Linked DNA regions of Homo sapiens. The protein of the gene in region 1 interacts with the protein of each later gene in a pairwise test. Each region holds a gene or a part of one and is shown on either strand. Other genes may lie near its edges.

Evidence for each region.
Region 2: the proteins of SEPTIN2 (region 1) and CRAMP1 interact in a two-hybrid assay, tested with the Homo sapiens proteins (one large-scale study listed by IntAct).

The regions. Positions count from the first base shown.
Region 1 is NC_000002.12:241,350,205-241,354,023, reverse strand, and holds part of SEPTIN2 (septin-2), read right to left. Parts: intron 2,082-3,819; exon of another isoform or gene 2,058-2,081; 3' UTR 1-2,057.
Region 2 is NC_000016.10:1,615,193-1,619,011, forward strand, and holds part of CRAMP1 (protein cramped-like), read left to right. Parts: intron 1-3,819.

The DNA.
Region 1 (3,819 bases):
ATATCTAAACAATAGTGCTTTATTGATAAAAGGTTAGTTTAAATGGATACAAAATTGCTGTGTAAAATAAGTGTTTTCAAAATACATTTCTATAGGTAGAGACTATGTCTTAGTAAAAGAGCAGTTATCTATTATCAAAAGTATCTATTTAGATTTGGGTAGTAAAACCAAAGGGGATCAGAAGTGTAGCAGTGTGGGTCCTCCCTCCCTGCATAGCTGTTACCAGGAGGCAGCGTGCCTGAAGTACTTTCACTCACATATGCGGGGCTTAGTCACTAGCAAACTTGTTTTTCTTTTTTACAGATTTTCCAGCAAAGTTATTAAATGTCAAACTCAAATAATGGACTCCGCATGGATGTACTCTGAAGTCATGGAACACCACTTCTTAGTTACCTTCACACAATAAGCCATAACATATAGCTTTTGGCTGTTCACAATTAAGCAACAGTGAAGGGCAAAGTTAGCAAGAACACCAGATTATTTTCTGTAGCACACCTTCATTAACTATTATTATTTAACTGCCTCATTTTATGTTTTTTCTAGCCCCCACAAAAATGAAAAAACCCTGTCTCATCCTCAGATTAAGCATTTTCTCCATCTCCCTACACAACCATTGTCTCCTTTCATCTGTCAATTTCTGGGGTTGAATTTCCCAACTTCAGTAGAAATGATAAAAAAGGCAACCGCTGGAGTGTACCATAAGGAGACACAAGAAGAAAGGTGACACTAAGGCTACAGTGCACAGAAAACAGACCAGGTGTGGCTTCGACTGTGCGGACCTGCCCACTAGCCTATGCTACAGATTTGAAATGTCTTTCACTTTGACATGACACACGGTTTATATTACACAAAATGAATGAAACGACAATGGCTAAAAATAAATGAGACAGCCTGCACACAAAAAGATGATGACTGCTACTTTCCTCCCATCAGAAAATTACTCAAAAAGGGAGTATTTAAAGGAAACTCAAATCAGGAGAACCCGGTAGGCATCAGAGGTTCAGGGCACCAAGGCCTTAGGGCGGGAACACTTTTCAACCCAAGCCAGGCTTCAGGGGCACGCCCACCAACAGACCCCAATTTCCACAGGGGAGGCAGATCTTCTATACCTACAGTGACAGAAAATACACTAAAGTGCAGTATAAAATATAAAAAGGTTTGATTCTGAATAGACCAACTGCTAATTTTCCTTAAAAAAATTTTTAATTTGGTTGAGTAAAAACCAAATTAGTTCACTGAATCTCATTTTGTAGGTAAGAGTCTTATTTGCAATACGAAAACTGGAGCTTATGACTGCTTTGATTTTCTCTGTAGCACAGGATAACCAGTATTAGTGGAGAACACTACAAAAGGTGGCTTGTGGTGAGTTCTTTGCATAGTGGTTTTAAAAACAACCTAGCATCAGAATTAAGAGACTTCTTTAAAACTCACCTCTAAAAAAGCTGTTTAAGTATAAAGATATATCTCATTAGGAAATTCTATTATGTTTTATTTGGTTAACAGATAAAATCGCAGACGAATCAACAGTATAGAATTATAGCAGCAAAACTGGTTTTAGGTGTTGTGTACAAACATAAAAGCAAGGAAGCAAAGATCTCCAAGTGGTGTGATGTGGTAAGCAGATGGCCTTGCACCAAGTCAGTGTATCTTTCTACATCACTAGGCACACACCTCTACCACTAAGGAACATTATGGTAAATCTGAATGTTCTAGATAAAAATCAGGAGTGCTCATCAATGGTTAGTCAGTTGTTAAGTCAGTTAAATCAAAGAAATTCAGTATTAAGTATACATGCCGATTCTTGGAAATCAATTCTAACATTAGTGGTTAGGGAGAAAGAAAAGGAAGACATTCACCTCACAAAACACAGAGTGTGACACAGCAATGAAATACATACGTTAAAAGTACTTCATACAAAAACACATCAAAGTCTTTTAAAAATTAAATTCTCAGGCACAGGTACTGTTAAAATGTGGATGGCACCCTCCCAAGGATTGAAAACACACAGCTGGATCATGCATCTGGAATGTTTTCTTTTTTATCCAGGAAAGTGTTTTCTAGAAAAAAGAAAACAAAACACACTTAAGTGGGAGTGAGGCAATGTCTGCTGCGTTAATTATTAACAGTTCTACTTTTCTCCTTAACAAAGGTCATAAACTGAGCAAAAGGCAGGGCTTACATGACCACAAAGTTAACTAAACCAAAAAGCCATTCATGAGGCTCCTGGAAACTGGAAATGCTGCAAAACTAGAAAGTATACAGAAATAAAATTTTATCGATCTAAAAGTAAAATTTTCATTCCATAAAGGTTGAAAATGAAGCTCAGAGAAAATAAGCAAACACCTGTCACTGCTTCCTGCTTCAAATGAGCTGCATCGCTGAGGCATCCTTGTCTCTTTCCACTGTACCCTCACTTCCCCAGTCACATGCCATTAACTGGTTATGCAGGACCAGCCTCTAGAGTCAGCAGGCCATCGTTTAAAAGTCATGGCACCATCAGCAAATACTTTTAAACTCTCGGAGCGGCAACAATTTCCTCATCAGTAAAGTGTGAACTAAGCACATACCCTCAGGACTATTCTAAGGTGTCACTGTGATGATGAAACTAAAGCAACCAACTTGGACTCAGTTGGGGGTGACATGGATGTTTTCCTTACAGTAACTTATTAAACTGTACATACGTATTTTTGTGCATTTTGTGTAAATACCGTATTTTACAATGAACACCTTTCCCACTAAGCTGCAAGAGCGTTTGGTGACTAAGGCTCCAGCAAGTCACTCTGGGTCCTTCCTCAGCCACCTGTCCACATGCTGTGGAGGCCTCAAGACTCCCTGCCTTCTGCCTAACCCACCCTGCCGTATGTCGTTGAAGGCTCAAGTCCCCTCCCTGTTTTCATGAACACACTCATGCTTCCAGAATGAGGTCCCTGAATTGTAGTAGAGACCTTCTACCAAATTCCCAGCGTTTCATCCTCAGATCTTGGCCAACTCAAACTCTCTTTCAAGCTCTAATCAGATCTCTTGTATGAGGTTTGTTTGCCTTTACCCCAGCTCCATGTGACCTACCCTCTTCTTTGGACTCTTAGGTCATTACTTAACTTTACCTTTCATGCTTTTCCTCTGGCAAGTGATGGGAGTGGCCACCTGGACAGTTCAGAGAGCCTGCCTGTCCATAAGATACATAAGATACAGGGGAGTGGGCATCTGCCTTTTCCTGGTCCTGAGTCTCTGGAGTCTGCAGATTCTTTTCAAGCAGGCAGACCAGCATACACCATGCCAGACAGATCTATTCACTAATGACCATCAGTCGGGACAAAGCTATCTGAGGAACAGGAGGTCAGCAGTCACCATCCAGGGAACCCTTATCTACCTCACATAATTCTTCTTCCTTGTGCCATCTCTACTTTTAATCTGTACAAGCTGTTTTAATAACACGTTTTTATTCCCTTTAAAGAGATGTTTTAACAATTAACAAATTTCCAATAATACAACTAATAAAAGTGCTTTAATACATAATTTCCTTCTAATGTTGGTATTTGCAAGCTTAGAAAATAACCTGCAAATGTACCCCAATAAAATAAAAGTTGAAATTATTTAAAAAAAAAAGAAGAGACAAAAATATGAAAAATCTTTACTAGAAAGTAGGTGGCAAAGTAGTGGCTTCTGTTTTTCAGGAGCAATCTCTCCTTGTTTAAGATTAGTGATGGAGTTACTTCAAAATGCAAAATATTAATGAGGCTTAAGGAGGAACCTGTCATATTTAAGCTGACACAATGTTAGTAACTGCCTGTCTTCCAGGCTAAGGGACAACAGGGCCTA
Region 2 (3,819 bases), on another chromosome or scaffold:
GAGGCAGTGAGTATCCTTTTTTGGGGGGGAGTCGAAGAGATCCCTTAAAGCTGTTTCCTTTCCAAAGGATCACTGATGGTTTTCTATGGTTTTGTGTTTCAAACAGCGGACAATAGTTCGGAAACGGGAAGAGAAAAAAATACCTGCTGTATCTCTTTCCCAGACATCAGGCGGTGGAAATGCACCAAGGGAGCAGGCTTTTGAAACTCATTGGGGGGAAGATGGGTAAGAAGCGGAGAAAGGATCCTTGGGGTCTGACTTGGACCCATTGTCCTCTCCTTCAAGTGCTCCTGGGTTGAGAGTAGGAAGGGCATAGAGATGGGGCCCTTTGAGTTGCAACTGGGGTTTACTTCTGTGCCAAAGAAAGGAAAGAGTGGTGAAAACGATTGACATGAACAAGCAGCAGCTTGTAGTGTTCGCCCTTGTATTCTGAGGTGATGGAGAATGTTGCTACTTAGCTGGGGTCTCTTACCAAGATAGTAAGAAAACGGCATGTTAGTTTCGTTCTCCATGTGCCAGTGCTTCATTGTTGTCTGCTCTTATTTCTATTTCAGTCTTGTGCTTTTCCTTACGCAGGTGAATGACTCTGATTCTTTTTGTTTCCGACCATGTTCGCAGCACTTTGTATAAATAGCAAATATAACATCAGCTTCCAGTGAGTTTCACGTGAAAAAAAAATCTTTCACTTCCTTCCTTGGGAAATGCTCGTTTACATTTAGTGAATGGTCCTGGTAGTTTTGACAAGGAAATATATTACGAACTAATGGAGAACCTGCTTTGGAGATCTGTGCCACATGTGTTCCATTAAGCCCACTTCTCCTGCCGCATTCTCAACCGAAGAAGGCTGGCCTCCGGAATCATGGCCTTACTCATTGGTAAAGAATTCTGATATAAGTATACTTATTTAAAGATGTAAATAGAAGGTAACTTAGCATGTTTCAGAATTTAAAACTTGCCTCATATGAATTTATTTTGATGTGAAAGTTGCTGATCAATTTGGAAAACATGAGTGGCTTTGCTTGTTACTAGTTTTTTATTGCTAGTTACAGGTATGTCTAAGCTCATATAAGCTCCATGGTTCCTTCAAAGGTTTGTTGTTCATGGTTCAGAAGCCCTGGACCTTGAATCCAGCCGGCATTCGTCCCCCATGTCCCTGGCCTCCAACCTTGCTCTGCCCCTTCACCCTCTTGGAGATGCTTTTCTGTCGGGTGTCCTCACCTGTGAGGCAAGGAATGAGAGCAGCTACTTCACCCCGTTGAAGTGCGGCTGCTAAAATGAAATAGTGCATTGGTGTGAAAGCACTCTCAGACGTGTACGTGGCTACTTGTATGTATAAGTGAAGTGCTGCTGAGACGTTAGTGATCAGGTCAATTTTTGGCAGTTGGGACGAGGGGAGGCTTGCTTTTGTTTGTATAGTTGAGAGTGGCTTGCTAAGGTGCAGAAGGTTTCCTGAGCTTGGCTCACACTTAGGTTGCTGGCACTTCTTTCTTTGCTTCTTGTCCCATTGTGTGGCTTGGAGAAGCGTGGGACTTTTCATTAAGTTTTAATATTAATAAAATGCAAATTTATTAGAATTTGTGCTCCTCGTGACATATCCATTATCCCACTTTAGCAAGCAAATATATCTTTTTTTTTTTTTTGAGACTGAGTCTCACTCTGTCACCCAGGCTGGAGTGCAGTGGTGCGATCTCAGCTCATTGCAAGCTCTGCCTCCCAGGTTCACACCATTCTCTTGCCTCAGCCTCCCAGGTGGCTGGGACTACAGGCGCCTGCCACCACACCCAGCTAATTTTTTTTTTTTTTTGGTATTTTTAGTTGAGACGGGGTTTCACCGTGTTAGCCAGGATGGTCTCGATCTCCTGACCTTGTGATCCTCCCGCCTCAGCCCCCCAAAGTGCTGGGATTACAGGCATGAGCCACCGCTCCTGGCCACAAGCAAATATATCTTTAAGCAAATAATAAGCTAAGCTGTGATGGTGGCTTTTAGGAGAGGAGTAGGAAGTGGGTCTCCTTTGCATCACAGAACTTCTCGGCCACTGTCTGCCTTGGAGCTTCCCGGGAAGGAAGGCTGCCTGTCCGCTGCTCTCTGCTTTCAGGTTCCTCAGTGCTTTGGGAGGCACTTCACTGTGCCCAGGACATCCTCTGACACCAGTCTTTGGAGAGACCTCTGCTCAGTCGTTGCTTCCATTACCCGTCAGAAAAGAAGGCCAGGTGGTGGCAGTTGCCCCGCAACAGTCTTTAGCTCACCTTCCAGAAAGATGCTCAGAGGAGAATCCTCTTACATTCTGGAGAAATCTGCATCTGGAGTGGTGAGCATCTGTCAGGGAGGAAACGATCAATACTTCATGTTTCAATTTTTCACTTGGAAATGATGTAACTTCTATTATGCCTAAGGAATACTTAGCTCAATCACTGGCAGTTCCTTTGGTTGATTACTTACTGCCCTGGCCAGTTTCAATCTCAGTGGGCCTGAGACTCTTACAGTGAATTTGGAAGAAAGGACTTGTGGAGAAAAGGAAAGTCTGCTTGTTTGGCTTTTCTGCATGCAAGTGTGTTTTCTTTCTCTGAAGAAGACACTCTTATTGACTTCAATGAAAAATGCTTTTTTTTCTAGTTCAGTTTCAAATTTAAATCTTCTTGCATTGATAAAGCGATGGTAGCTGGGATTTAGTGCCTGTTTGCCAGGCATCTTGCATGTCTGTAATTTTGCTTTTAAATGAGTGCAGAACCTGAAGTAGATTGTTTAAGTCACATGCTCAACCTAAACTCAAGGTAAGCTGCAGACCAGAAATCCCAAAACAGACATTCCTGCAGCTCTAATACACCACCCACGTGACCCTGGGACGCACTGGAGATTTCGGCTTAGAGCCGCAGAAACCATCTGAAAGACATAAGTCAGGAGACAGAGTCCTGATACCTTTCCCTATTTGGCCAGTTCATGATCCAGCTAGCCCTGGGCAAACTAGTCCATCTTTTGGATAAAATAAACACCTGCCTCAGAATCGCTTGAACCCGGGAGGCGGAGGTTGCAGTGAGCCAAGATTGCGCCATTGCACTCCAGCCTGGGCAACAAGGGTGAGACTTAGTCTCTAAATAAATAAATAAATATAAAAATAAACACCTGCCTTAAGTCACAAGGTGTTTTACAGGCACCTGGTGTTTCTGCCATGAAAAATGCATGCAGCTTCAAGATTACAGGACTGCAGGAGGAGGCTGCACAGGCTGGCGGGGTGGGGAGCCTACCTGTGGGGTGAGTAGAAGTCCGGGAATGCTGGTGCTCTGCTGGGGCAGATGGGATGAGAGAACACTGGGGGTGGGGACAGAGAGCCTCTGCTTATTTTGGTCCCCCTCTCACCCCGAAGAACTTCAGTTCCATCAAGGATGGGGAAATGCACCATCTCCAGAATAGGGTAATGTAGTCTGAAGTGACAGTCGTTTGTGTGTAGGAATCGGTAAACGACTGTGCACAATTTACTCTTTATATTTTGTATAATCTGTGGACTGTTTGTAGTTTCTAGATGTTTCAAAAAGATGTCTCATAAGAGATTGTACCTGTAGTCCTAGCTACTCAGGAGGCTGAGGTGGGAGGATCACCTGAGGCTGCTGGTTGGAGGCTGCAGTGAGCTGTGGACATTGCACTCCAGCCTGGGTGACACAACAAGACCCTGTTTCAAAAACAAAACAAAACCAAAAAAGATAAAGTAGGTAAGGCAAAATTTGAACATTGGTTTGAAGGCTGAGCTGCTTTTCAAATACCTGTATACTTTTGGTATTAAAACTAGTTTCTGTGGTGTCTGTTGTTGTGAAGTTGTCTAATGA